Linked DNA regions of Homo sapiens. The protein of the gene in region 3 interacts with the protein of the main gene of each other region in a pairwise test. Each region holds a gene or a part of one and is shown on either strand. Other genes may lie near its edges. The genes, in order: KIR3DL1, GPR101, THSD7B and LYVE1.

What was found.
Region 1: the proteins of THSD7B (region 3) and KIR3DL1 interact in binary tests that used the Homo sapiens proteins (3 or more experiments, as listed by UniProt).
Region 2: the proteins of THSD7B (region 3) and GPR101 interact in binary tests that used the Homo sapiens proteins (3 or more experiments, as listed by UniProt).
Region 4: the proteins of THSD7B (region 3) and LYVE1 interact in binary tests that used the Homo sapiens proteins (3 or more experiments, as listed by UniProt).

Annotation. Positions count from the first base shown.
Region 1 is NC_000019.10:54,819,462-54,826,490, forward strand, and holds part of KIR3DL1 (killer cell immunoglobulin-like receptor 3DL1 isoform 1 precursor), read left to right. Parts: intron 1-251; coding exon 252-551; intron 552-2,103; coding exon 2,104-2,397; intron 2,398-5,566; coding exon 5,567-5,617; intron 5,618-7,029. UniProt on the Homo sapiens protein: Receptor on natural killer (NK) cells for HLA Bw4 allele. Inhibits the activity of NK cells thus preventing cell lysis.
Region 2 is NC_000023.11:137,023,991-137,031,019, forward strand, and holds part of GPR101 (probable G-protein coupled receptor 101), read right to left. Parts: coding exon 6,158-7,029; 3' UTR 1-6,157. UniProt on the Homo sapiens protein: Orphan receptor.
Region 3 is NC_000002.12:137,055,524-137,062,552, reverse strand, and holds part of THSD7B (thrombospondin type-1 domain-containing protein 7B precursor), read right to left. Parts: intron 6,134-7,029; coding exon 5,323-6,133; intron 1-5,322.
Region 4 is NC_000011.10:10,558,653-10,565,681, forward strand, and holds part of LYVE1 (lymphatic vessel endothelial hyaluronic acid receptor 1 precursor), read right to left. Parts: intron 5,723-7,029; coding exon 5,551-5,722; intron 5,428-5,550; coding exon 5,288-5,427; intron 2,149-5,287; coding exon 1,843-2,148; intron 1,243-1,842; coding exon 1,164-1,242; intron 646-1,163; coding exon 459-645; 3' UTR 1-458. UniProt on the Homo sapiens protein: Ligand-specific transporter trafficking between intracellular organelles (TGN) and the plasma membrane. Plays a role in autocrine regulation of cell growth mediated by growth regulators containing cell surface retention sequence binding (CRS).

The DNA.
Region 1 (7,029 bases), on a different chromosome or scaffold from region 3:
AACAGCCCAAGAGATGAGGCTGTCTTCACAGTGGCAAGGGAGTCAGGGGCTACTGGAGACAGAGGGACAGAGAAGAGGGAGGAAGACAGATGGAGGCACCTGCACCAGGGGATATGGGCACAGAAAAGACACGGAGATGCAGAGAGGGAGGAGAGAGACAGACACGGGGAGGGGAACCCTCACTCATTCCAGGTGCCATGGATGGGATGATAAAGAGAGATGCCTTCTAAACTCACAACTTCTCTTTCTAGGAAACCACAGAAAACCTTCCCTCCTGGCCCACCCAGGTCCCCTGGTGAAATCAGGAGAGAGAGTCATCCTGCAATGTTGGTCAGATATCATGTTTGAGCACTTCTTTCTGCACAAAGAGGGGATCTCTAAGGACCCCTCACGCCTCGTTGGACAGATCCATGATGGGGTCTCCAAGGCCAATTTCTCCATCGGTCCCATGATGCTTGCCCTTGCAGGGACCTACAGATGCTACGGTTCTGTTACTCACACCCCCTATCAGTTGTCAGCTCCCAGTGATCCCCTGGACATCGTGGTCACAGGTGAGAGTGTCTAGACATTGTTCTCATTGTCACTGGGACACAGAGTGAATGATCCAGGACTTGGAACCCCCAGGTGGTCATGAGGAAGATAAGTGTGGGATTCTTATGGAAAGAGAGTGACTTGGTGAGGTCTGTACCAACAGAGACAGAGAAACAGGAGACATAAGTACAGAACAGGTGTCATAACAGAGGACAGACACAGGGGCCATACAGGGAGGTAGAAAAGAGAGAAAGAGGTAAAGGAGACACTCAGACAGACAGACATGTCCCAGAGAGAGGTGTCCTTCCATGCTGACTTTGCTCAGAGACCTGGCACAGGTTAGAAGTTTCATTTCTGTTTTACCTCCACAAAGTGTTCCTACCAGAAGAACCCAAGGACACCCATATTTCTGACCTGAGTTGGGCCCTGTGGCCTCAGGCCTTGTGCCACCTACAGATGCCGTGTTTATTCTGACACCTCTGCCTTCCATGCAATGGAGAGTAATCATCCCAGGATATCATGGCCCCTGAACACCAACCCCTGTATGCTGTGTGAACTTGGGGTCCCCAGACTGGATTCTGAGGCTCATATTCCAAATAATCCCACATATGATAGGATCGCTGAGAGACACAGAGAAAAATCAGGGACACCAAAAAGCAAAGACATAAACACACACAAAATGAGCCAGAAGAAGGAGATTAAGAGATTCACAGACACATAAAAAGAAAGAAAAGAGGGCAGAATGGAGAGAATGATGGAAAGGAGGAGAGAAAAGCCCCAAAATCAGAACCCTGAGGGAGGGACACAAAGACAGAGAAAGATAAATATGTGGGGATGGATTGCAGAGATTCCAAATAGAACTAGAGAGACTGAGAGGCAGAGAAAGACAAGGAGACGGAGAGAGAGAGATGATAGATGGATAGATAGACGTAGATAGATGATAAATAGGTAGATGATAGATAATGGATTGGTTATAGATACATAGATGATGACTGATAGATGATACATAGAGATGACGATGATGATGATAGACACATAGATATATACATAGATGATACATAAATAGAGACAGAGAGGCAGACAGAGAGGTAATAGAGAGAGAGATAGATGATACATATATAGATAATAGATGATTGATGGATAGATAGACAGACAGACAATTGATAGAGAGATAGATAAGTGATACATAAATATAGATGATAGATAATTTGTAGATAGACACAAAATAGATAAATAGATAGAAATGTGCAGAAAGTTATGAACAAGACAGAAAGTGAGAGACTCAAAATTAAAGAAAAAGGAAGATCAAGTCAACCAATCCAAGGAGGGTCAGAGAGAATAAAACAATCCAAAAAGGGAAAACATACCTCAGGGTGGGGAAGTGAGGTCATAGACCTAGAGAGACAGAAAAGGTAGAAGGAGGAAACAGATATGAAGAGAGATGGGGTGGAGGGTGAGAGAGAGAGAGAGAGCATTAGGTCATAGAGCAGGGGAGTGAGTTCTCAGCTCAGGTATGAGGGGAGCTATGACAAGGAAGAACCTCCCTGAGGAAACTGCCTCTTCTCCTTCCAGGTCCATATGAGAAACCTTCTCTCTCAGCCCAGCCGGGCCCCAAGGTTCAGGCAGGAGAGAGCGTGACCTTGTCCTGTAGCTCCCGGAGCTCCTATGACATGTACCATCTATCCAGGGAGGGGGGAGCCCATGAACGTAGGCTCCCTGCAGTGCGCAAGGTCAACAGAACATTCCAGGCAGATTTCCCTCTGGGCCCTGCCACCCACGGAGGGACCTACAGATGCTTCGGCTCTTTCCGTCACTCTCCCTACGAGTGGTCAGACCCGAGTGACCCACTGCTTGTTTCTGTCACAGGTGAGAAAAGCCCATATCTCTCTCATGTCCTATGATCCTAAATCCTTAGCTAAGGAGCTTCCTGCTGATGATGGAGAAAAGCATGGACAGATGCAGAGAGAAGACACAGCAGGTGTGAGGGCGGAGTCAGGGCGCAGGATGGCAGACAGGGCACCTCCAAACCCTCCTTCATGGCCTGCATGGAGGCCTCCGATCAGGGCTCCAGGCACCCAGGCAGATGGAGAAAGCGGTCAGGACAGACCCAGAGAAGGGGAGACTGGGCTTAGTTTGGGGAGATCAGAGGTTCCCTCAGCCCCTCAATCTTATCCATTTCCCAGAAGCCCATCATGGCCTCTCACCCACACAGAGAGATATCATCACCAGCAACCCCTACACCCTTTTCTTTTCATTTTCAAAAATATTTATTGAGGTTAAATGTAACTATATAATTTACCACCTTTACCATTTTTAAAAGTAAAATCTAGTGGTCATAAATACCTTTATATGCTGGGTGTGGTGGTTCACGGTTGTAATCTCGGCGCTTTGAGAGGCCAAGGAAGGTGGATCATTTAAGATCAGGAACTCGAGATCACCCTGGCCAACATGTGGGAAATTCATCTTTACTAAACAGACAAGAAAAATTAGCCGAGCATGCTGGCATGCACCTGTAGTCCTAGCTACTTGGGAGGCTGAGGCAGGAGAAGCACTTAAACCCAGGAGGCAGAGGTTGCACTGAGCCGAGATCATGCCACTGCACTGCAGCCTGGGAGACAGAGAGAGACTCTGTTTCTAAATAAATAAATACATCTATATTCTTTTTTTTGTTACCCTCCACCCTTCCCTTCCTGGCCTCTGGTGTCCACCATTGTATTCTCCACCTTCATGAGATCCACCTTTTATCTCCTGCATGTGGGTGAGAAATGGGAATCTTTGTAATGACCTCCAGTTCCATCCATGTGGCTGCAAATGACAGGATGTTATTGTTTCTATGGATGAGTAGTCTCCACTGTGTGTGTGTACCACAGTTCTCTATCCATTCACCCACTGATGGGCAGGTAGGTTGACTCCACATCTTGGCTACTGTGAACAGTGCTGGAACAGTCATATGAGTGCAGATATCACTTCGATACACTGATGTCCTTTCCTTTGGATATAAACCCAGTAGTGAAATTGCTGGACACTATGAAAGTTCTCTTTTTTTTTTTTTCTTTTTTGAGAAAGAGTTTCCCTCCTTAGTCCAAGCTGGAGTCTAAGTGGTGAGATCTTGGCTCATTGCAACCTGTGCCTCCTAGGTTCAAATGATTGTCCTGACTCAGCCTCCCTAGTAGCTGTGATTACAGGTGCACGCCACCATGCCTGGCTAATTTTTGTATTTTTTTAGCACAGACGGGATATCCCAATTTTGGGCAGGCTGCTCTCAAACTCCTGACCTCAAGTGAGGTGCCTGCCTCGGTTTCCCAAAGTGCTGAAGTTACAGGCATAAGCCACTATGCCCAGCCTCCTTTTAGTTTTTTAAAGAATTTCCATACTTTTCTCCATAATAGTTGTACTAATTTACATTCCTACCAACAGGGTACCAGGGTTCTCCTTTCTCTACCATCTTGCCAGCATTTGTTTTGCCTGTCTTGCAGTAAAAGCCATTTTACTTTACTTTATTTTATTTATTTATTTATGTTGAGATGGAGTTTCACTCATAGTCTCCCAGGCTGGAGTGCAAGGGTGTGATCTCAGCTCACTGCAACCTCCGCCTCCCGCGTTCAACTGATTCTCCTGCCTCAGCCTCCAAAGTAGCTGGGATTACAGGCATGTGCCACCACGCCTAGCTAATTTTTGTATGTTTAGTAGAGAGGGAGTTTCTCCATGATGGTCAGGCTGGTCTCCCGACCTCAGGTGATCCGCCCACCTCCGCCTCCTGAAGTGCCGGAATTACAGGCGTGAGCCACCGGCCTAAAAGGCATTTTAATGGGATGAGATGAAAACTCATCGCGATTGTAATTTACATTTCTCTGATGATGAGTGATGCCGAGTACTTTTTCATATACGTGATCGCCATTTCTATGTTTTGTTTGTGGAGAAATGTCTCCTCATGTCTTTTGCTCGTTTTTTAATTAAATTGTTTTATTGAGTTGTTTGAGCTTCTTATATTTCCAGTTATTAATCCCGTCTCAGATGAATAGTTTGCAAATATTTGCTCCTATTTTGTCGGTTGTCTCTTCACTTTCTTGGTTTATCTTTTGTGGTGCAGAAGTTGCTTGGTTTGATGTAATCCTAATGGTCTATTTTTTGCTTTGATTACTTGTGTTTTGAAGGTTTTAAACAAAATGTCTTTCGTCAGACAAATGTCTTCCCCATTATTTTCTTCTACATGTTTCATAGGTTCAGGCCTTAGACTCATGTTTTTAATCCATTTTCATTTGATTTTTGTGTATGGTGACAGGTATAGATGCAGTTTTATTCCTCTGCATGTAGATATCCAGTTTTCCCCACACCATTTATTGAAAAGACTGTCCTTTCCTGATTGTAAGTTCTCGGCACCTTTGTCAAAGTCCATTAAATGGGCTGGGTATGGTGGCTCACACCTGCAATTCCAGCACTTTGGGAGGCCGAGGCGGGTGGATCACCTGAAGCCAGGAGTTCAAGACCAGGCTGGCCAACAGAGTGAAACCTCGTCTCTACTAAAAATACAAAAATTAGCTGAGCATGGTGACCAGTGCCTGTAATACCACTACTCGGGTGTTTGAGGCAAGAGAATTGCTTGAATCCAGGAAGTGGAGGTTGCATTGAGCTGAGATTGCACCTCTGCACTCCAGCCTGCATGACAGAGCAAGATTCTATCACACACACACACAAAAAAAGCCATTGGATGTAAATGCATGGATTATATCTGTGTTCTCCATTCTGTTTCATTTTTTATGTGCCTTTCTTTATGCCAATGTCATGCTGTTTTGCTTACTACAGCTCTGTAACATATTTCTAAGTCAGGTAGTGTGATGCTCCTGTTTTCTCTTTATACCTTCAAGTCTCAAGACAGTGGGCATCGCACACAAAAATTATGGAGAAGAGGATCCCAAGACTCCCAGGGTCCAACATTAGATAACAGAGTGTTGGCCATGAACCAACCTCAAAGATTTCCATTGAGTAGAGGACAAGCACCCTCATTTCCTCACATCTCTCCTGTCCCATGTTCTAGGAAACCCTTCAAGTAGTTGGCCTTCACCCACAGAACCAAGCTCCAAATCTGGTGAGTAAAGGACCCCTCTTATCTCTGCTTTTGGAAACCTGGGGAGGTGGAAGCCTTGGATGCAAGTGTTGGCTCAAACCTCCCAGCTCTGTGAATGAGGGCCTGTCTTCCACCATCTCTGAACTCCAGACACTCCAACAGTGAAAGGGATCTAGGGCCACCAAAGGGCTCAGCGAAGTCTCTTAACCTTTAATGTCCTGCAGGTGAGACCTCCTACAAGCTAGAAGAATGATTGCCAATCTGACATCCTTCTCAGGAAACATGCAGTGTTTTTTCTTCCTGCATTCCTAACTGGAGGATAAATTCCTGGGGACTTGAGAGAGGGAAGGGAAGGGAACATCTGATGAGGGCGAGGTGTTTTAGAGAAGTTCCACTTGCCAAGGAATGAATTACTGTTGGTCATGAAGCAACCCTGGCTGACTCAGCAGAGCAAGAGCCTTGCCGTAACAGAGAACAGAGCTCATGCACGCACACTTCGACTCACTGACTCATTCAGCCACGGCCCCATGCTCAGGCTGTGCAGTTGGAATCCTTTCCTATTGTTGCCATAACAAATTTCCACAAGATTCGTGGGTGAAAACAAAACGGTTTTTTAATTATCTTACAGTGCTGTAGCTCAAAGTAGGAAGTGCATCTTACTGGGCTAAAATCAAGGTGACAGCAAGGCTGCCTTCCCTCTGAGGATTCCAGGCAAGAATCTGCTTCTCACTTGTCCCAGCTTCTAAAGGCTCCCAGTTCCTTGGCTCCTGGTCCCCTTCCTCCTTCCTCAAAGCCCACAAAGACTGGTCACATCTCACATGGCATCACTCAGACCCTTCTTCCTTACCACACCTCTTTCTCTGAATGCTGCTCTCCCTTCTTCCTTATCTTTTGAAAACTTGGGGATTCTATTGGGTTCACCAAGATGAAAATCCATCATAATCTCCCGGAAATCATTCAGGATACCCTTGTTTTAAGTTCAGCTGACTAGCAACCGTAATTCCATCTGCAATCTTCATTCCTTCTTTCCATGTAAAATAAGATATTCACAAGCTATGGAGGCCAGGACAGGGACATTTTGGGGTGGGACAGCATTCTCCTGCCTTCCACGAACGGTGAACAAGATGCATTTGGCCTCTGCTCTTGGGACACTGATATTGCAGATGGTTAAATGGGAGGACAGAAAATGAGTGCACAAGTGGACCAATAAATGAATGATCCATTGGGAAGCATCTGTGCATGAAATCTATTTGTTTGTTCGTTCATTTATTTATTGAGACAGAGTCTCCCTCTGTCTTCCAGGCTACAGTGCAGTGTCACGATCTTGGCTCACTGCAACCTGCGTCTCCTGGATCCAAGTGATTCTCCTGCCTCACCCTCTCGAGTAGCTGGGATTACAGGCAACTGCCACCATGCCCGGCTAATTCTTTTTG
Region 2 (7,029 bases), on a different chromosome or scaffold from region 3:
CAGCACCTATTTAAGAAACACAAACATCACTTAATAATACTTAGTTAAATCACAAACATCAATTTCTCCGCATTTCCCAAGCAGGAGTCCGTTATTCCTTTCCAGCAAAAGAAAAAAAAAGGCATTGTAACCATTTTAGAAAGGATCCAATTAAAGCCAACCAATATGTGAAACCTTGGCCTTGGGCAGAATCTCTGGGACTGCTGGCCCATGTAATAGTGTTGATTTATGAATTTGATTGGGGTGTGAGTGGGATTCTCTTCTTGTTGAGGGGAGGAAGATAAAGCCTACCTGTTTTGTGCACCTGAAGGTAAGTCGTGCCAATGGGAACTTGGCCTCAGGACTGTAGTTTGACAATCCTTTGAGAAGGCACTTTTCAATTACAAATTCTTACTGTTTTTAAAGAAAAATGAAACTTTTAAATTCAAACGTTAAAATATTAAAGAGAACTATTTATTGATTAAATACATTTTTCTGTTTTCAGTTTCAAAGCAGCTCACAAAATTTGGTATTAAAGGCAGTTTTAAAAACAATTTAATGAGGGTATATATAGTTTTTTAGTTGTAATATTTTGTTCTGAAAATATAACAAAATCATCTTATAGTTTTCTTTTCTTGTCTGACACAAATTCCATTGATACAGTACTGTAACTATCAAACACCGTAGCTGTGACCCCATAGAGGAGTCCCACTACCTCTCTATCTAGTTAGCCATCCATGCTGTCTCTATCTTGTCTCTCAGACAACCAACCAAAGGGGGAAAAACAGAGCAGCCTTTTTCTGGGTTTTGCTACTGCTTTAGGAGGGCATGGATGGTCACATTATGGATCTGCCAAGCGCGAAACCTGTCAGTTCACGGTCAGGTGTTGGTTGGGTCTTCAGGGTGCAGTATTCTTTTCGTCCTGCTAACTGGACTCTACTTGCCTATCCTGGAGTCCTTCCTTTTTAATGGAGAAGGATGGTCTTCTTTGAGTTTGCATTCTATATATTCAGTGAATAGAAAACAGGCACACCAGTGCCAAGTGTGTTGTGGAAAACTGTCAGCAAGGACTTCAGCCACGATGATTAGTTCACACTAATGACCAATTGTACCAGAATAAGTCCTCACCTGTCATATATCATATTAGGGATTTAAGGAATGAAAGGCAACACTTCCTGCAACCCCACCTTGGCACTATTTTACATATCCTGTAGTATATACTTCAAAAATAAATTTAAAAAACAAATGTACCATGTTCTACATCAGAAACTGACTAAGTTGTAGGTCACACATAGAATTTGGCATGCATTTTATTAACTAACTTTACAAGTACATACTACCTTTGAGGACAACACTATCTACAAACACAATCTAATATCTAGCACCGTATCTCCAAGAACACTTACATTTTATATACAGTTATAGTTTACATTTAGGAGAATTACTACAAAAAATACTACATCACTAAAGATGAAAATACCAAACTTTTAACATTAAAGTTGTAGCACAGATGAAGAGGGGGGAAAATCCACTCACGTTTGAAACATCAAACTAAAACCAATCTTGTTTTTCTCTACATTTTAGAACAAGACAGATAGAATAATTATTCCTCAGACATAGTAAACCTCCTGCTGAGTGTCTAAGTCACTGTGGTTTTCCCTTGGTGTGTGTACTCTGAGATATGGAGGCTTTGGGAGGCAATGATGGAAACACTTGACACCTATTAGCAACCTTCGTTTACCTTGAGGATTCTTATTCTATTTACCAAAGAGCAGTGAACTTGTCAGTGACCTGGCAATCTGTGGCCAGGTTCAGTGGATTTTAGCTTCACTGTTTCTTCCTCTAGCCAGTTTTGTTGCTTAGGGCAAAAGACTGCTGTAAGCAAGCTGGGCATTTGACGTAGAGGAAGAGATCATTGCTAAGTAATTGGAAAGAATTTATGACAAGGATTTCTCTTCTTTTTGGATTTTAGACTATCGCATTTGCTGTTTCCAGCTCATTGCTTCTGTCTCCTCATGCCTTAGCTTAGAGGGGCTTTGAGGGGCCGAGAGCACTAGTCCAGCCCATGGAAAGTAAGAGGAAGAGATAAGGAGGGAGAGGGTTAAAAGCCATTGAGTGGCCAGATTTTCTCTCCTTATCTTGGCCACTGGCTAACAGCTAACTGTTCCTGTAATCTTTTGTCTGGTCTAGAAGGAAACGGCATTTTGCTTAGAGAAACCTCTCCTGACAGCGTGAGGTCTTTCTTAAAGAGGAATACAACAGAAAAGACATTATGAGGGGAAAACACGTTATTTTTTTCCTCAAAATATTGGGCAGGGTGGTTATGAGAGAAAAATACAGTCCAGTAGTTTAAATTGTTGCTCATTGTTTTATCCCAACAACCCATGAGAGTTTTATCTTGAGAGTCCAAATTACCAGATGATGCGTATTTTTTTTCTTCCAAATGATGTGTTTCAGACACTTTTAAAAGCTTTTTTGGCAAAGTCTAAGTAAGCCTAGTTTAATCATGTAAATTATTCTTCAGGTAGTATGAAAAAATCTTCTTGAAGTAACTTTACCTAGCTTAATTGGCTAATTATATATAAAATAAGGCAATGTTAGGCATCTTATAATTCTGTAGGTGAAACATTTTTTAGTGTTCTATTTTTGCTGAAATAATTGGACAGTATCTACAGTATTGACTATTCCCCCAATGATGTGTAATATCGAGTGCTTTTTTGGTAAAAAATTAGGTGCCTACCTTCTACTAAATAATAACTGGCACTTTTCCTTACCTGTTGAATTTGAAGTAGGTATCCCGTCATCTCTAAATTGGATTGGAGTTGGGTAGGAGACAGAAAAATACCTTTCATTGCTCCTATGGCTCACTTCTCTCCTTCCCTGCTTCCATAGGCCCCCAGGTCCCTGTGAATCTGTCAGCTCTGGGTTGGGAAGGGATGGATGGGGAGTAGGTGAACACGCAGAGCTTCAAGCATGGACTATTCCTGAAGGGCCAGTGCAGCAGAGGGAGAGGGAGTGAGGCAGGTGAAGGCAGTGGGCTGATGGCAAGAGGTAGGCAGGGAGCTGGAAGTGCAGAGGCCTTCCAAGCAGCTGGTACTTGTGGTGTCTCAGAGAAGTGGGACCCTAGCATCACAGAAGTCACAGAAGCCCAGGGCTTGCTCCTTATTACTGCCTTCCCAAGCTTGTGGAAATTGGTGTGTTAGTCAAAGCACCTGCGACTTCTTGGCAAACTAGATGCTCTATTATTCGTAAATAAGGAAAATCATTAAATTTAAAATCACATCATTTCATAGTCTGGTTTGTCTGGCCCCTGTACTTTAATGGGATTTTTTTTTTTTTTTTTACTGCACATATGAAGTGGCCTTGGCAAAAGAATACATCCTTTAAAAACATTCAGGGAAAGCTATTGCACATGAGGATCTGTGAGGCTAATGATGACTTTTTTTGTGTGCTTTCAGATTTTCAAATGACAAAACAGTATGTGCAGTAAAACCTCATTAAGTTGATAGTGCTTTATTCAAAATAGCAAAAAATTTCGAGTACTTGCTATCTCCAAGCTAACCATAGGCCTTATTGTTCATTTAGAAGAAAATGTCATCAAAGCAGAATGCTCTTAATTAAAAGGTCCTCTTTTCCAGGCTCATAGTTTCAAAAGGTCTTCACTTTTGAGGAATCCAATTTACCAAAATAATGGACAATGACTAAAATAGGGAAAAGAGGAACTTCAAAAAGGAAAGGGAATCTCAGTGCCCTTGAGAATGTTGTGTGTGCTGTTAAATGGACTTACCATACTTGTACAGGTTCTGGTTCCATTTTGATTTGAGATTTTGGCAAACAATTTTCTCTGATACACTTTGAAGGGGGTGAGCTTTAAAAATAAAACAAGAAGTTCAGTTTTAACACAATGTTTGGAGACATTTATGTTTGAAATCCTGTTTCCTACCCAAGTAAGCATTTCTACTCAAAGGATAGGCTATAGCTACCTTGAACTCCTTTGACAATTTGAACAGACCTGAAGGCACTGCCCCTCCCCTGTAGGAGGATTGATCACATAGGCCATTTCTTCACCCAGATATCCTTTAAGGAAAGGTCAGTTCAAGAGTTTGGCAATAAATTGGTAGAACAAATTTATGACTGTTAATTCACTTTATGCATTTTGGTAGAAAAATAAATGATAGTGTAAGGGTAAACTTTAGCCCCCATGCCTTGTCTGAATAACTACAAGTTCCAAATTAATGGAGTTGGAATTAATAAGGTTATCATGGTATTTTTATTGGATGGGTCAGCTCTATATTATTTGGTTCTATTCCCTCTACTTTCCTAAATTCTGAACATGGCAATCCCAAATTCCCATGCAGAGTTATTCACAGTCCAAATACATTGCTGTTTACCCCTTGAGAAGTTCATGTTGAAATCTGTGAGGAGGAAGAGATAAAAAAAAATAAATGAGCTGGGCATTTATTTAAATGAAACTTGAGTTCTAATAAAGGCATGACAATCACACAAGAATGAGGCTAAACTCTGAAGATGGTCATCTTACATCATACAACTACCTGATTAACCATTTTCAACCAAACACTCCCTCCACCCATATTGACAGTGGATTTCTGCATGAACAGTTGGTTGACTCTGGAGTTGCTTTAACTTGTTCTGTAGGAGGATCAAAAACACTGGCTTGACTGTTTTTTTGGTTCCATGTTACTTGGTCACATACATACGGCCCATGCCCTCAGAAATGTATATGTATATCCCTGCCCAAAGTTATTTTGCGGTTTGGGATTTGAGGAATGTTCCTGTGAATTGACCCTAGGGATAATTTAGATATTGTTAAAGTTTTCCCAACGTGATTTATTTCAACAGCATTAATTAGGATATGTCTGATCTGAATGCTCTGATTTTAGGACTGTTTGGAATAGGTTACATGTTTTCTAGGTATTGTGAAATCATCCTCTTTGTCATTTCTGACTCTCTGATATTTCTCTTTCACATCTGCAGAGAGCTTAAAAGCTTTAAAGAGAGCCACAGGTGGAAAAGACACATGGGTGTGCCTGGAGGAAGAAAAATGTTCATTCTGCCTTCCTTGCTCCCCATGTGGAGATCACATTTATTGTCTATGATCTCATGGACACAAAATATATTTCTGATGAACAAATTATTCCTCAGTGACATCATGAATTTTGTAGGACTTAGGCCACTTCTAGTTGAATTTCTTTTTTTCTGTAAATACTGTTTGACTAAAAAAGGCTTATTTGACAAAAACAAACCAAAAGAAAACAGAAGTGTTGGCAGAGATCTGAAGAATTCCCACCAGCATCTCAATTCAGTCACATAAGGGAAGTTGTAAAATAGTGGCATGATTTCTGCCCCACTATTATTCAAACAGGAGACAGAAAATATTTGTGTCAATTGACAATTTACACTTAATGACCTCAGTTCCAGCCCATGCATAAACCCAAGATTTTATAGGAAAAAAAGTCAACTGTTTAGCTCTCCAGATGTGTGTTATTTCTCAATCTTTTCCCTTGGACTAGCTTCCCATTTCATACATGTCCTTCTACTTTTCTGGATCCCTTTAGGGGATCTAGAAACCTTCTTGAGATTCTAACTGTAGGAGGCCCTTTGTTTTAGTTTGTGTAACAGTCTTTGCACCCGACTGTGGGGCTGTTCAGTTCAGAATTTGGCTCATATGTTGATCAGTCCATTAGGTTCTGTTTCTTGGGCTCCATGAATGATTTGGTCCATTGCCTTTCTTTCAGTTGAACACAAGCTGTAGCTCTGGCCCATGAGCTCCCGACCCGAGGGCCGAAAAGTCCTTAAGTTCACAAGCATCATCTTCCCTTTCCTTCAGAGCTAAAGTTGGCATGTTGTAGCTCTGGAAAAGATAGAATACCAACTACAAGTCCAAAATGGATAGCCCTTGTTGCTTTAAGAAATGTAGAGCCTAATAATCTTTGGGGGGAAAATTTCAGTCAGAATCCTCAAGTCCATGCTTTTACGGAAAGACCCCAGTTCCTGCCTCTTCTATATATTTATCTACCTTGTGGTGAAGAGCATGTGTGTGCAACACCTTTGCCTGAAATGGTATGGTTTGGCATTAATGAATTGTGGGTCCATTGAAAAGAAATCTCCTCTTGTTTCTCGTGTTATGGACAGTTCAAGGTTTGCCTTAGAACTAACTTCAAGGAAAAGTAGCAGAATCGTAGGAAGGGACAATCTTGCCTTCAGTCCCACCCTCTGTTCCGGGCAGGTCTGGGTGGCTATCTTCTTTCGGGGGCTTTTCCTTGCAGAAGAACTTCTTCAGCATGTCCTGGATTTCCTTCTTAATGGTCTTGTGCATGTAGCCATAGACATAGGGGTGGATGCAGCACTGCAGGAAGAAAAGCCAGATGATTATGGTGATCACCCACTGGGGTACCTGGGTTTCGACATCCACCCACACGGCCAGGACTGCTAAAAAGCAGTAGGGCCCCAGGGATAGCACATAGGAGAAAATGATGATGAAGATCACTTTAGCAGCTTTGCACTGGTAGCACCTGGGCAGAGGAGGGTTGCTGTTGCTGTTACGACGACTGGGTGGGAGGCTCTCCGGGATGTTCACTGCCTCGACGTCATCCTCACTGAAATTGATGTCGTCTTCACCAAACTCCATGTCATCTTCACCCAAGTCAATGCTGCACTGGTTGACCTCTGTGCGACCCTTGTCTGCCTTCATGCTGTTCTCCTCAACTTTGGTGCTGCCTTCCTTACCCTCCATGCTGCCGTCGCTGGCCACCGTGCTGCTCTCTCTGACCTCCTCGCTGCCCCTGGCCTCTACACTACTCTCACTGGTCCCCGTGCTTCCTTCCTTGGCCTTCAGGCTGCCGTCCTTGGCTTCCATTCTGCCCTCCTTGGCCTTGACCTCACCTTCATGCTGGCGGCGAAACTCACTCTCATCCTGGAACTCCTCCTTCTTCTCTGCTCCCTCTTCATCCTCATTCTCCACACAGTCCTTGACTCGCACTTCCAAGCTGTGTCTCTTGACATTGTACAGCAGAGCATGCTGCCTCCGGG
Region 3 (7,029 bases):
AGAAATGCAAAAATATTTAGAACTACATGAAAATAATGCAAATTATCAGAATTTGTGGAACAAAGAGAAAGGGCTTGAGGAAATTGAATGCATCTAATAGTAAAGAAGAGAGATCTCAAATGAGTAACCTAAGTTTCCACCTTAGGAAACTAGAAAAAGAAGAGCAATTAAATCTAAAGTAAGCAGAAGAAAAGAAATAATAAAATCAGAGTCAAAATCAATGAAATTAGAAAAAAAATCAATAGAAAAAAATCAACAAAACCAAAAGCTGGTTTTTAAAAGCACTGATAAAATTAATGAACCTCTAGCCAGGTTAGGAAAAAAAAGAGAGGATACAAATTATTAATACTGGAAACTTAAGAAGGGTAATCATTAATAATCCCATAGCTATTAAAAGGAAAAAGGGATATTATGAACAACTCTATGTCCCTAAATTTGATAATCTAGATGAAATGAGCCAATTCCTTGAAAGACAAAATCTAGCAAAACACACAAAGAGAAATCGATGATACGAATAGTCCTAAATCTGTTAAAAGAAATTAAACCAGTATTTAGTAACTTTCCAAATCAGAAAGCATGAGGTCCAGAGGGTTCACTACCAAACATTCAAGGGAAAAATTATACCAATTCTCAACAATTTCTTTCAGAAAATGAAAGCACAGAAAATACTTTCCAATTCATTCGAAGAGGGCAGCATTACCCTAACATCACAACAAAGACATTACAAGTAAGGACAACAAAGATCAACATTTCTCATAAACATACATGAAATAAGTCTCAATAAAATACTAGCAAGTCAAATCCAACACTATGTAAAAGGAATTTACGTCGCAGCTAAGTGGGATTTATTCCACATACACAAGGCTGGTTCAACATTTGAAAATCAATTAATGTAATCCATAACATAAACAGGCTAATGAACAAAAATCATATAATCAGATCAATAGAGGCAGAAAAAATATTTAACAAAATCTAATGATTATTTATAAGGAAAATTCTCAGAAAACTAAGAATGAAGGGGAACTTCCTTGACTTGATCAAAACACCTACAAAAAAAAAAAACCTATAGCTAACAAAACACTTAATGGTGACAGCATAGATTTCTTTCCCAGTACAAAAAAAAAAGAATGTCCTTTCTCATCACTCCTGTATAACATTGTACTGGAAGTCTTGGCTAATGAAGACAAGAAAATAAAATAAAGAAAACATATTCAGATTGGAAAGAAAGCAATAATTTTTCCTTTTTTTTTTGCAGATGACATGCTGACATGCTTATTTATGTAAGTAATCTCAAAAAATCAACAACTACAGCAATGAAAATCTCTGGATAATAAGTGACTATAACAAAGTTGCAGGATGCAAGGTTAATATAAAAAGTTAACGGTTTTCTTATTATACCAGCAATGCACAATTGCAATATGAAATTAAAAACACAATACCATTTATGTTAGCACCAAAAAAGGTAAATTAATCTAAATCTGACACAATATGTACAAGATATATTTTTTTTAAAAAACCCTCCAAGACCCTGACAAAATAAACAAGAATTAAATAAATGGAGAGATATCCTATGTACCAGAATAGGATGACTCAGTATTATCAATATATTAGTTCTTCCCAAATTGATCTTCCATTACATGCAATCCCAATCAAAATCTTGGAAGTTATTTTGTGGATATCAAAAAGTAGTTCCAAAGTTTATATGAAAAAGCAAAAGATTCACTGCAGACAACACATAGGAAGAAAAAAAATAGGAAGACTGACACTTCTCTGCTTTACAATTTACTATAAAACTACATTACTCAAAACATTGTGTTACTAACAAATAATAGATAGTAAAATAGAATAAAAATTGAAGGCATAGAACAGACTCATATCAACATAGTCAATTGATCTTTGTCAAAAAAGCATAGGTAACTCAATAGAGAAAAGATATTCTTTACAATAAATGGTGCTGGAACAACTGAACATATAATAATCTTTTTTAAAAAGAATGCAGACATAGACCCTATACCTTTCACCAAAAAACCTCAAAATGAATGATAGACCTAAATATAATAAACAAAATTATGCAACTCGTAGAAGAAAATATAAGAGAAAAATTGAGTTGACTTTGGGTTTAGTGATATTTTTAAACAACACCAAAAAAAAAAGATCCTTGAAAAAATATTGAGAAGTTGGACTTCATTAAAATTAAAAATATTTTCTCTGTGAACAACACCATCAAGAAAATGAAAACACAAATCATAGACTGTCAAAAATATTTGCAAAACACATATCTGATAAAGGACTGGTATCCAAAATATACAAATAACTCTTAAAATTCAACAATAAGAAAACAACTCAATTAAAAAATAGACAAAACATCTGAATAGACACCTTATCAAATAATATATACAGATGGCAAGCAAGTGTATGAAAAGATGTTCAGCATCACATGTCATTAAGGAATCGCAATTTAAAACAATGAGATACCATTACACACCTATTCGAATGGCAAAACTCCAAAATACTGACAACAAATCCCAGTGATGTGACAAAATAGAACTTCCACTAATTGCTGGTGGCATTGCAAAGTGGCACAGCCATTCTGGAAGACAGCTGGGCAGTTTCTTACAAAACTAAACATACTCTTGCTATACCATACAGCAATTGCACTACTTGATATTAACCCAAATGACTTGAAAACCTATGTTCACAAAAAATTACACACATAAACTTTTATAGCAGCTTTATTCAAAATTGCCAAAACTTGATAGCAACCAAGATGTACTTCAGTAGGTGAATGAACAAACTATAGTACCACAAAATGGAATATTATTCAGTGATAAAAAGAAATAAGCTACCAAGTCACAAACAGACATGGAACAAACTTAAATGCGTATTGCAAAGTGAAATAAGTCAACCAGAAAAAGCTACATATATAATTCTAACTATATAACATTTTTTAAAAAGGCAAAACTTTGGGGACAGTCAGTAAAATGGTCAGTAGTTGCCAGGGGTTCTCAGGGAGAGAGGGAAGGATGAGTAAATAGAGTAGAAGGGATACTTAGGGGAGTAAAACTACTCTGTATGATACCGTAATTGTGGATCCATGTCATTATTCATTTGTCAAACCAATAGAATGTACAATACAAAGGATGAATCCTAATGTAAACTATAGTCTTTATTAACAGTAATATATCAATATTAGCTCATCAATTGTAACCAATGTACCTGCTGCACACTGAATTGTGTTCCTCCAAAATTCAAATGTTGAAACTCTAACCTCCATTTTGAATATGGGAAATTTCTAATGTAATCAGGTCATGAGAGTGGAGCCCTTGTGATAGGATTGGTGACCTTATAAGAAGAGACATAGAGTGCTCTCTTTTTTTCTCTCTCTCCCCCACCATGTGAGGACACAGCAAGAAGATGGCCATCTTTAAGACAAGAAGACAACCTTCATCACGAACTAAATCAAGACACACCTTGAATTTGGACTTTCCAGCCTCCAGAACTGTGGAAATAAATTTCTCATTTAAATTCCCAAACTATGGTATTTATTTTTATAACAGTTAGTCTTCGGCAATTCAAGCTGCTATAACAAAGTACCAGAAGCTGGATGGCTTAAAAAACAACAGAAATCTATTTCTCACAGTTCTAGAGGCTGGAAGTCTGAGACCAGGGTACCAGCATAGTCACATTCTGGTGGGTTCTCTCTTCTGGCTTGCAGACTGCTGACTTCACATTGTATCCTCAAATGGCAGAAAAAGAGTGAGAGGAAGCTCTCATGGCGCACTAATCCCATCTATGAGAACTGCATCATCACGACATAATTACCTCCCAAAGGCCCCATGCCTCCTAAAAACATTACACTCATGGTTAGAATTTCGATACATAAATTTGGGGAGGGGAACACAATTTGAACTGTGTTATGCACTCAATGTTTGTGTATGTAACTATGAAATGTTTGTTTATGAAACTATCACATGAATGCAAGATGTTAATAATAGGAAAAAACTATATGTTGGAGACAGGGAGTATACAGGAACTCAGTACTTTCACTCATTTTTTCTGAAAATTTAAAAATTGATCTGAAAAATCAAGTCTATTAAAAAAAGAAAAACACTGCAAAAATGCACAAACAAAATGAAAAGATTCTATGTAATGCTCACTTCAGCAATACAGTACGGAATATTAAGAAAACAATGTATTTACACAACCCCACACACATTCAAACAAATTGCATGAATCTTTTGCTTAATCTGGACTTCAAAGAAGTAGGCAATAAAAAGCTGCAAATCACTCTTCAGTGGACTTGCTAATTTCATATGGCACAAATCAGAATGAAGTATCAAGGATAAAATATACTCATTTGTGAAGTCAAATGGAAAAAAAAACAATCATCACATTACTTTGTTCATAAACAACAGTGGTAGTCTTCTGGGCATCTCCTGGTCAGCTGTGGATCCCAAGAAGGCAGCAACTGATGAGAATGATTAATTCTAAAGACAAGCATTATGTTGTTTGGTAATTTAAGTACTATTGAAAGGCATCTTAATTTGGAAGAAACTTAGTAATACACAAATGCTTCATTTAAGACCCTCTGAGGTAAAATTAAACAAATACTACTTTCAATATATTTCTGTGAGTTTATGTCATGATGTTTTAGACTACAATTTAAAATAAAACAAGCATAAATTTGAAACCTAAGCTGTTGCTTTAATAGTTTATTTCTTCTCCAGTACGTCATTCTAATTACTGCTTGCGCAAGTTAATACCTGTATCAAAATAACGCCAAAGAAAGCACTCTTGGAACAACTTTTCGGTATTATTGCTAGTATAAAAAATGTACAACACAGATGTCAAAGAATGTTGATAACAGTGGAAACAAAAGTAAACAAATAAAAACAAAAATAAAATTTTAAAGGACAAATGTTCTGAAAAACAAAAATATTTACATAATTCATATCCCACATTTGAAATTGAACTTGAATTTTTATCATTATGAGAAGCCCCTTAGTCTTCTATCACTGTTGTAATGGCAGATCTATTTTTATACTAGTTACTGTCTTGATAAAATGTGGAAATATATGACTTATCCTATATATATAATTGCATTACTAATCACACAAGAATGCTAGAACACTGCTTGGTCTAAACTATGCAATTTTGAAAACCTCCCAGTGAAATTAAAAATTTCTTACATGAAACTTCTAAAAACCTAAATTATAAACCTCGTTGCCATTTTCGCTTTGTAGAAAATCATAAAGAAGCTTTATAAAGTTGCACTATAAAATATTTTAGGTGAATCAAATTCAAGCATCAAAGGTCTCCTACCTTAACATAGCATTTTGTCCATCACTTCTTGTACACGAAACCTGCCGGGTTTGATAACCTATCTCTATTGCCCAAGACTTCGAATGATGATGTGCTTTGTAACTTTGATGTTTAAAGGTGACTCGCTCATTTGAATCAGAGTTAAAATCCAGAACAGTTCTTCCGCTTGGATTAATTTCTTTAAGATGAGGCAGTCTGCATTTACTCCATGGTCCAACCTTAAGGCTAAATGTATATTCCTCTTCCCCAAGAGGACAGGAAATGGGAGCATCACAGGCTCTTGACTCAGTCAGATTTGGACATTGCAAACCACCAAAGAGAGGGGGAGCTATGACCGCGCGAGTTCTATGCTGCAATTTCTTCCCACATCCCTTGCTACAGTTGGACCATGGTAAGAACTCAGATACTACACAATCCCGGGGACAAGGAATGAGGCAAGCCTGTTCTGTAGGAGGCTGAAGGGCAAAGTGTTCGCATATTTCATTTGCAACCACAGTTCGGTTCAGCTTCTGAATGCAGCGCACCATCCGGTGCTGCAGTCCATGCTGAGCCGTCACACACTCTGCAGTCCGAGGCTTGACTTCACCGCGAGCGTAAGGAACAAGCACACAGTGGTGCCAGTCAGAAACCTCCCACTGAAAGAGGTCACTGTGCCAGTCACAAACTCGGAAACAACTTCTTTCCTTTGGAGGCCTGTTGCTCTCACCACAGTTAGACAGGTGACTTGTCCACCCGTCAACATGAAAACACCACACTGCCCGACTCTGGACTCCTCCGGGACCACAGTCTCCTGTACACCTTCCCCACGGACCTACAGGCAGAAAAACAAGGATGTTAATTACTCAGAGATTACATTCAGCAATTCACAGGTAAGTAGAAGTCAATTAACACACTTTCCAACACAAGCAGTATGAAATTAGGAATTTTGGTGGAACAGAGACAACATAATTTAGTGGTTCAGAATGTGGACACTCTTGTTGAAATAAGCATTCCATCAGTAATGTAAACTTGGATGAATTATTTCAACTTTCTAAGCCTTAGAAAGTTCCTCACCTATATAAGGTAGAAGATAATAAAAGCACCGACTTGTAGAATTGCTCTGAAGATAAATGATACAATGTGTCAAGTAGACAATACAAATTTAATAAATGATTGGTACCATTATAACTACTACGTTCCAAAGCCTATACATCTAACTCAATATTAATACTTTCCACTGAGGTGGTGTTTCATTCAAAAGAAAAGCCCTAAAGCCAGGATTTTAATAAAGTAGAATTTTTCATATTTCCAGTCTTTCAGCTCAAACTCTAAGAAGCTCAGAAGAGAGATATGTTTAACACCCTAAGTTGCCAAAGTATCCTATTTTCATTTTCAAAATAATTGTCCTCAGTTTTGGTTAGTACTTGCAGAGAGAATTGCATGAAAATAACAATGGGGTGCAGGGGAAAGGTAAGGTAATAAGAGAAGCAGCAGCACTGAATTGTCTGTGGAAATTCTGCCCCTAGAATCCTTGAAGTGTACTCATTTTGATTTCTGATGGGTACTGATCCAGGTACAGTTTCCAACATTAGCTTGTAATATGCCAGATCTTTTAATTAACTAATTCATTTGTGTAGGTAAGAGTCCAAGAAATGGACAGATGAGGGAGCTGCCCATTGACGTTTATCATATTTTTTGCATCTCATCTACAGACATACCAGCAGGCCT
Region 4 (7,029 bases), on a different chromosome or scaffold from region 3:
TGGGATACGTGTTTCTCTTTCAGAGCTGAAGAAAGGGTCTGAGCTGCGGAATCAGTAGAGAAAGCCTTGGTCTCAGTGACTCCTTGGCTTTCAACCCACCTAGCCTCAGACAGCCAGGAGGCCTTTTTACCACTGGATACTGATGAGATGTTTTAGGTCCTTGCACTTTGCAAAACTCCTTTCTCCCAGTGGGATATTATTAGGACATAGCCAGGCTAGAAAGGCCGTGGGAAGCTTTGGAGGTAGGAGGATAGGATCCAGACAGGGTTACAATAAGGAGAAGGGCATTCTCTTTGGTGCACTCCATAGTCCAATGGCAGTCCTGAGCTGATTCCAGTTAGGAACCAAGGGTGGACTTTCTTCTTTGGTTCTTTGGCCCTTTTGATTTCCCCAGCTGGGGCAGGGTAAGGAGCATGAAAGAAACCAGCCTCAGGTGTGTCTCCTCATTTCTGTCTCATCTAAACTTCAGCTTCCAGGCATCGCACGGTAGTTTTGCTTGGACTCTTGGACTCTTCTGGGTTTTTATCAGTTTTCTTTGATTCCTCATTAGGGTTGCTATCATTGGCCTTCTCCTCCTTTACTACTTTGGTTTCGATCATTTCCTTCTGCTGATTCTTGTTTGTAAAAGGGAAGGCCTTCACATACCTTTAGGCAGAAACATGAAATTAAAGTGAGAGACTCTCACACATAACGATAGATAACACTTTTTGGCCATGGTACATATTGGCACAGTACACTGGATACCTTTATTTCAGAGTGATGCCAGCACATGCATGCTCTAATACATTAAGACATCACCACCTTAATGGATTCATTTAAATTGGACAATATGTTTGCAGGCCAGACTTTAGGCTGACCACATAACTCTTCCAACAAAAACAAAGAACCAAAAATCAAATAAAGCATATAAATTTTCCCCAGATGTCAATTTTTTTTAATTTCTTGATTTTCAAAGGACAGTCATTGACTGATGGCTGGACGACATGCATGTCCTGAAATAGAAAAGATTGGGCTGAAGGGAAAGAGATGAGATGAGGGAGAAATTTATATCAGAGGACTGCTATCTCCATTTTGATCAGCAAAATGCCAACAGTGACCCTGAAAAAGCACAGGATAGAAACATGACAAAGATTACAAGACTAGCAGTGCACCAACAACCCTACCTTTTGACATAGCAAAATCCAAGACCAGCTGCAGCACCAAAGAAGAGGAGAGCAAGCACTAGCAGAGCCGTGGGGACACCTGCAAGGAACAGAGACAAGGCCTGTTGGTCCTTCACTTAAACATTGTGTGTAATGCTCATTGCATGATCCAGGTGATTGAGACAGTAGACAGTACAGGAGAAAAACCTTCTCTGTAGCCCTTTATGATATTGGGCCCACACCAGCTTCTTTGCTTCATGCTTGTAGAATCATTGGCCTTGCTTCTCACACTCTCAATTCTATCAGTTGCAATATGACAGAGTTCATTTCTCCTCCATGGCCTTGAGACCTACTCTAGTCAACAAGCCTGCCTGAGAAAGAGATGACTAGAATAAAGTCATAGGCCTTTAGGGTATATATTTTAAAAAGAACTTATGCATAGGAACAGATAGTGATTTATTTTTAAAAGTCTTGAGTTTTCAACAGTGAAATTCTTTTATACTTACACTTTTTAGCTTAATCACTAAGGTTCTTTACAGCTCTCAGATTCTATGACTTCATGAAAGTTGAGTTTGTGTTAAGCTTTTATTAGTATTTGACAGGTCCTGAGCGCCTCATCTAAAGACAGGCAGGATTCTATGAATTATCTGTTATACATGAACATACATACACACGTAACATAGACACAGAAACCATTTACCTCCAAACCCAGCAGCTTCATTCTTGAATGCTGCTTTATTTTCAACAAATGGTTCAGTTTCTGTAGACATGGTGCTAGTTTCCATAAAAACTTCTGTGACACAAATCAATTTTTTTCTCCGTGGAATAGAAGTGGAAGCTGGAGCAGGAGGAGTAGTAGTAGGGGCAGGTATTGTAGAGTAAGGGGATGCCACCGAGTAGGTACTGTCACTGACAATAAATTCTGTTGTTTGTGTTGCAGTTTGAGTGTTGAATATGGGATCTTTGGTGGTGATAATTTCTGGAATGCACGAGTTAGTCCAAGTATCTGTTGGGATAGGGAAACATGGAATAAAAGTATTGCAACAGCCTCCTAACTGTTCTTCTTGCCTCTAGTCTTACTACCTCCAAACCCCTTATACCGCAGCTGGAATGGTCTTTAAAAAGCAAATCTAACCATATCACTTTCTTCCTTAGAAGCCTTCAGTGGCTATCTTTGTTGTATGGCCTACAAGGCCTTCTGTGATTTGGCCCCTGCTAACATGCCAGCCTCATCTGCTCTTTTTCTCTCATTGCCCCTGCCATACTGAAATTACTTGAAATTCCTTGATACACTTTATCTTACATCCAAGCCTTGCACCACGATGCTTTATTCACCTTTATGACTCTTTGCCTCTCTTTATTTAGCTTACTCTGACTCATCCCTCAGGTCTCAGATTGACCCTGTCTTTCTCAGGCAGACTTGTTGACTTGATTGGCATATGTTCTTGTACTTCCTTGTCACAGTTCTCATTACACTGTTCCCCACTGGACTGCAAGCTCTCTGGCAGCAGAAACCCCGTCTGTCTTGGTCAGCATGGTATGAGCACTGTGTGTGGTACATAGCACATGCTCAATAACTATTTGATGAATAGGGAAGGAAGGAAAAGGGAAAGGAAGGAAAGTATAGATTGGAAGACCAAATATACACATGTGGTGTCACTTCAGGACAAAGATATGCTAAGACCTGATATTTCTGGGCTCATTAAAAAAAGAAGTGAACAAAAAGGGACCAGGAGAGGGATAAGGGTTTGCTTTCCAATCTGTTGCATGTGCTAGAGAGGAAACACTTGTTAAAGCATCTTAATCTGAGTTGACCATGGCAGTAAGTGTTTAAATAGGTATCTCATTGAACAATATTACTAAACCCTTGTTTACACAGGAGGAAACTGAAGTTTAGAGAAATTGAATAACTCGCCCAAAGTCACAGAGCTAGTAAATGGCAGAGCCATGCAATATATTATAATATAAATTTGCATCTATTTTAAGTCCCTAATTATTTGTGGCAGTGGGTAGCATCAGCTGGGGTTGGGGGGTGGGCTAGCAGAGGGATAGCATTAGAAGAAATACCTAACGTAGGTGACGGGTTGATGGGTGCAGCAAACCACCATGGCACATGTATACCTATGTAACAAACCTGCACATTTTGCACGTGTATCCCAGAACTTAAAGTATAATAAAAATAAAATAATAAAATAAAATTATCTCTGGAAAAAAAGAAAAGAAATACATGGGATGGGAGTACAAGTTAAATGAAACCATGAGGAAATAGACAAATCCAAGTCCTCTTCCTCTGGCTCTTCTCTGTTTAGTCAGAGGGCTGGGTATCATCACATTGCCAGCTGGCAGGAAGGCAGTTAAAAAGCAAAGCCATTTGACAGGCATGGGCTGGCTATGAGGTATGCAGGCATATGTAGCTCACCAATTCCCCAGCCAGTGATGATAGACCAAAGAGGCAGAGAAGGGAAGGAAGATGGGAAATACACTGTTAGGAGAAGCCCTATGTTTCAGTCTTGATTCTGCCACTAACTGACCGTAGGACCTTGAACAAGCTAAGCCCGTGTTCTGAACTGTAGTTGTTTCATCCATGAAGTGAGGGAACTGGTCAAAGTTTCTCCATGGGCCTTTTCTGTGCCAAAGCCCTCTGGATCAGGGAACTACTTGGATCCTATATTGCCTTTCTGGGACAGTTTTTGCTAATATTGGCTGGTGCACATTTATCTCTCGGATCTTCGAGAATGATCTTGAAATCTATCCTGTGTATGACCTCTCAGCCACCTAACCTTCAGAAGGTCAGATAGATGAGTATGTGTGAAAAGTAATAATCAGACAGGGGTCCTTATGACAAACTGAGAGCAAGTGAGTATTTAGTAAAAGAAAAACTTTAGGAGAAGTACTTAGGTGAAGCACTTGGGCTAAGGCAGCCAAGGTCTTCAAGCAAGGTTAGTGGGTGACTTCATGACCACGAACAAATCAGTGCTGCCCTCCAGGTGTCAATCTTTTCCTTCATAAAGTGGAGACTGGGTCTGGTTCTTAAAATTATAAAGGAATGTGGAACAGTGGAAAGAGTGCGGTTTCAGAGTTAGACCTGAGTCTGAACCTTTACAGTAATGAGACGTTAGACAAATGTGTTTACATCCTTTGAACTCGGTTTCTTTTTTTTTTTTTTTTTTTTTTTTTGAGACGGAGTCTCACTCTGTCGCCCAGGCTGGAGTGCAATGGCATGATCTTGGCTCACTGCAAGCTCCGCCTCCTGGGTTCATGCCATTCTCCTGCCTCAGCCTCCCGAGTAGCTGGGACTACAGGTGCCTGCCACCACGCCTGGCTAATTTTTTGTATTTTTAGTAGAGACGGGGTTTCACCGTGTTAGGATGGTCTCAATCTCCTGACCTTGTGATCTGCCCGCCTCGGCCTCCCAAAGTGCTGGGATTACAGGCATGAGCCACTGTGCCCGGCCTGAACTCGGTTTCTTTATTTGCAAAGTGGGGATGATAAAGCATATCTCATAGGGATCTGTAGATTCCATATAGGTGGAAGCAACCAACCTTGGATTGAAAATATTTGGGAAAAAAAGAAAAATAACAATACAACAATAAAAAAGCAAATAATACAGTACAATGACTGTTTACATAGCATCTACATTGTATTAGGTATTATAAGTAGTTTAGAGATGATTTAAAGTGTACAGGAGGATGTGTGTAGGTTATATGCAAATATGACCCCATTTTATATCAGGGACTTGGGCATCTGTAGATTTTTGTATATGATGGGGTGCCGGAACCAATCTCCCACTGACACTGAGGGACGACTGTGCATCACTTTGTCCATAATGGATGCATTACATACATCTGTACCTTTGTTCCTTCCCTTCTGCCTGCTTATCTTATAGGATGCAGGGATGGTGGCAGTGGTAATTGAGCCTCCTGAATGTCTTCTCGTGTGTTGCCATTCAGTTATATCTCTCCTAACTTTTTCCTTTGAGGGGCATATTGCCACCCCTAGCCTGGCCAGAGAGACAGTGTCGGGAGAATTAGATGGCCGTGGCTGTGATTGCTTCTGCTGCTGCTCAGGGTTACTCTTCCCAGACAGGTCTCAGAGTGAGAGATACCCAGAGAATGCCACGTGGAAAGGTTGCAGATCAGACTCACCAGATGAGTTGTAACAATAGGCTGCAAACTGTCGGCTCACTGGAACCTTCCAAATCAGGACACCCACCCCATTTTTCCCACACTTGGGGTTTGGGCTAATCCTAGAGATGACCACGAATCCATCTCCAACCCAGCCATAGCTGTAAAAGAATACACACTAGTTGAACAGAAAAATGATTAGAAGGCTTCATCTCTATTGCTGAACAAGAACACAGAGCTAAAAAAGAACTCCAGCAGTGACAGTGAAACCAGCTTTTTCTCACCTGCAAGTTTCAAAGCTAGCTTTCAAGGCTGTTTCAACTTGGTCCTTGCCGGCCAAACTTAGTCCCAGCAGCCTACAGGCCTCCTTAGCTTCTGTGAAATTCAGCTGCTGGTTCGCCTTTTTGCTCACAAGGGTGATCCCCATAATTCTGCATGACACCTGGATGGAAAGCTCTGCAAAGGAATCACATAGGTCCTCAGTTTGCTGCTGTCCTTGTTTCCAGCCCTTAGACTCTCCTTCCCAGCAGAGTATATCGTCCTGATGCGCAGGGAGGTCTATCTGGCTGGGACTGGGGTTTAGAATAACAGGACACAGACCAGGCATTTTCCACAAGGACCATCTGCTGGGCTAGATGGATGCTTGTTCTTGTCCAAGCTGTAAATGTCGCCCAATCAAAATCTATCCCATCCCACTGCATTAAGATGCCTTGCTCACCATATAGGGGCTTTGGCTACCTGTTGTTGGGGTGCAGTCTAAGGGATGCAGTTACTGCAAACCTTTCTGGAGTCTGTAAAATGAAGCATCTGAGACTTTGAGAAAGATAGAATTCAGGGCTCTAGTTCATAGAATAGTTAGCAATACCCCAAACCAATGTGGTTTGGGGACACTACTATTTGTGAGATGGGCTGAAAATGTCACACTTGTTATAAAAGAATGTGAGTGCTCTCAGTTCCAGGTCTTTTGGCCACTGGGGGACAGGCTTACTCAGAAGTTCCTGGAGGAGCTGGCAGTAAACTTTGAATGGCAGAAAAACTAAATGAAGAAAGCAGAATTTTAGAGTCAGACTTGGGCTTAGATCTAGCATATGTCATTTGCTAGCTCTGTGACCTTAGCCTAGATACTTCATCTCTTTAATCTTCAGCTCTTTGAGCCTCCTTGTTTATAAATTCAAGGGAGTAACAGTGTCTACTGAATAGGGTAGTGAAAGTTAAGTGAGTAAATTCTAATACAAATGTTTAGCATAGTGCCTGCCACATGGTAGGTGCTTAATAAATCCACATAACATTATCATTATCGTTAAAGCATTTTGGTTTTGGTCTGCTAATGATTGATTACCCCACAGAAGCTGAGGCTGTTGAATAGGTAAGATATGAATAATATTTCTACTCAAAATCTAATGGATTTGGGAATTCTTTTGAACCCTTTTCTCTGGGTTCTGGGATGTACAGACCTGTATAAAATTGCCAAGTTGTATTGTATTCAAATACATTATTCCTACTGGGCTTCATCCACAAACATCCATAAAAGGGCATTTAAATCTCTCAAGTAATTGCTTGTACGCAGCTCTGTGTATTGGATGCTCAGTCAAATGCTTTGACCACTTCCTAGGTTGATATCTAATGGAAGTTTCTTTTTGAAAACATGGAAGGAGCATTTCTAAGTCCTCCATATGAACCTTGCTGTGGTGGCAGATTAGGAGCACACACTCAATTATGCCTGATTCTAAAACCCCAGTTCCTCTTTTTTCCTTCTTCTTTCC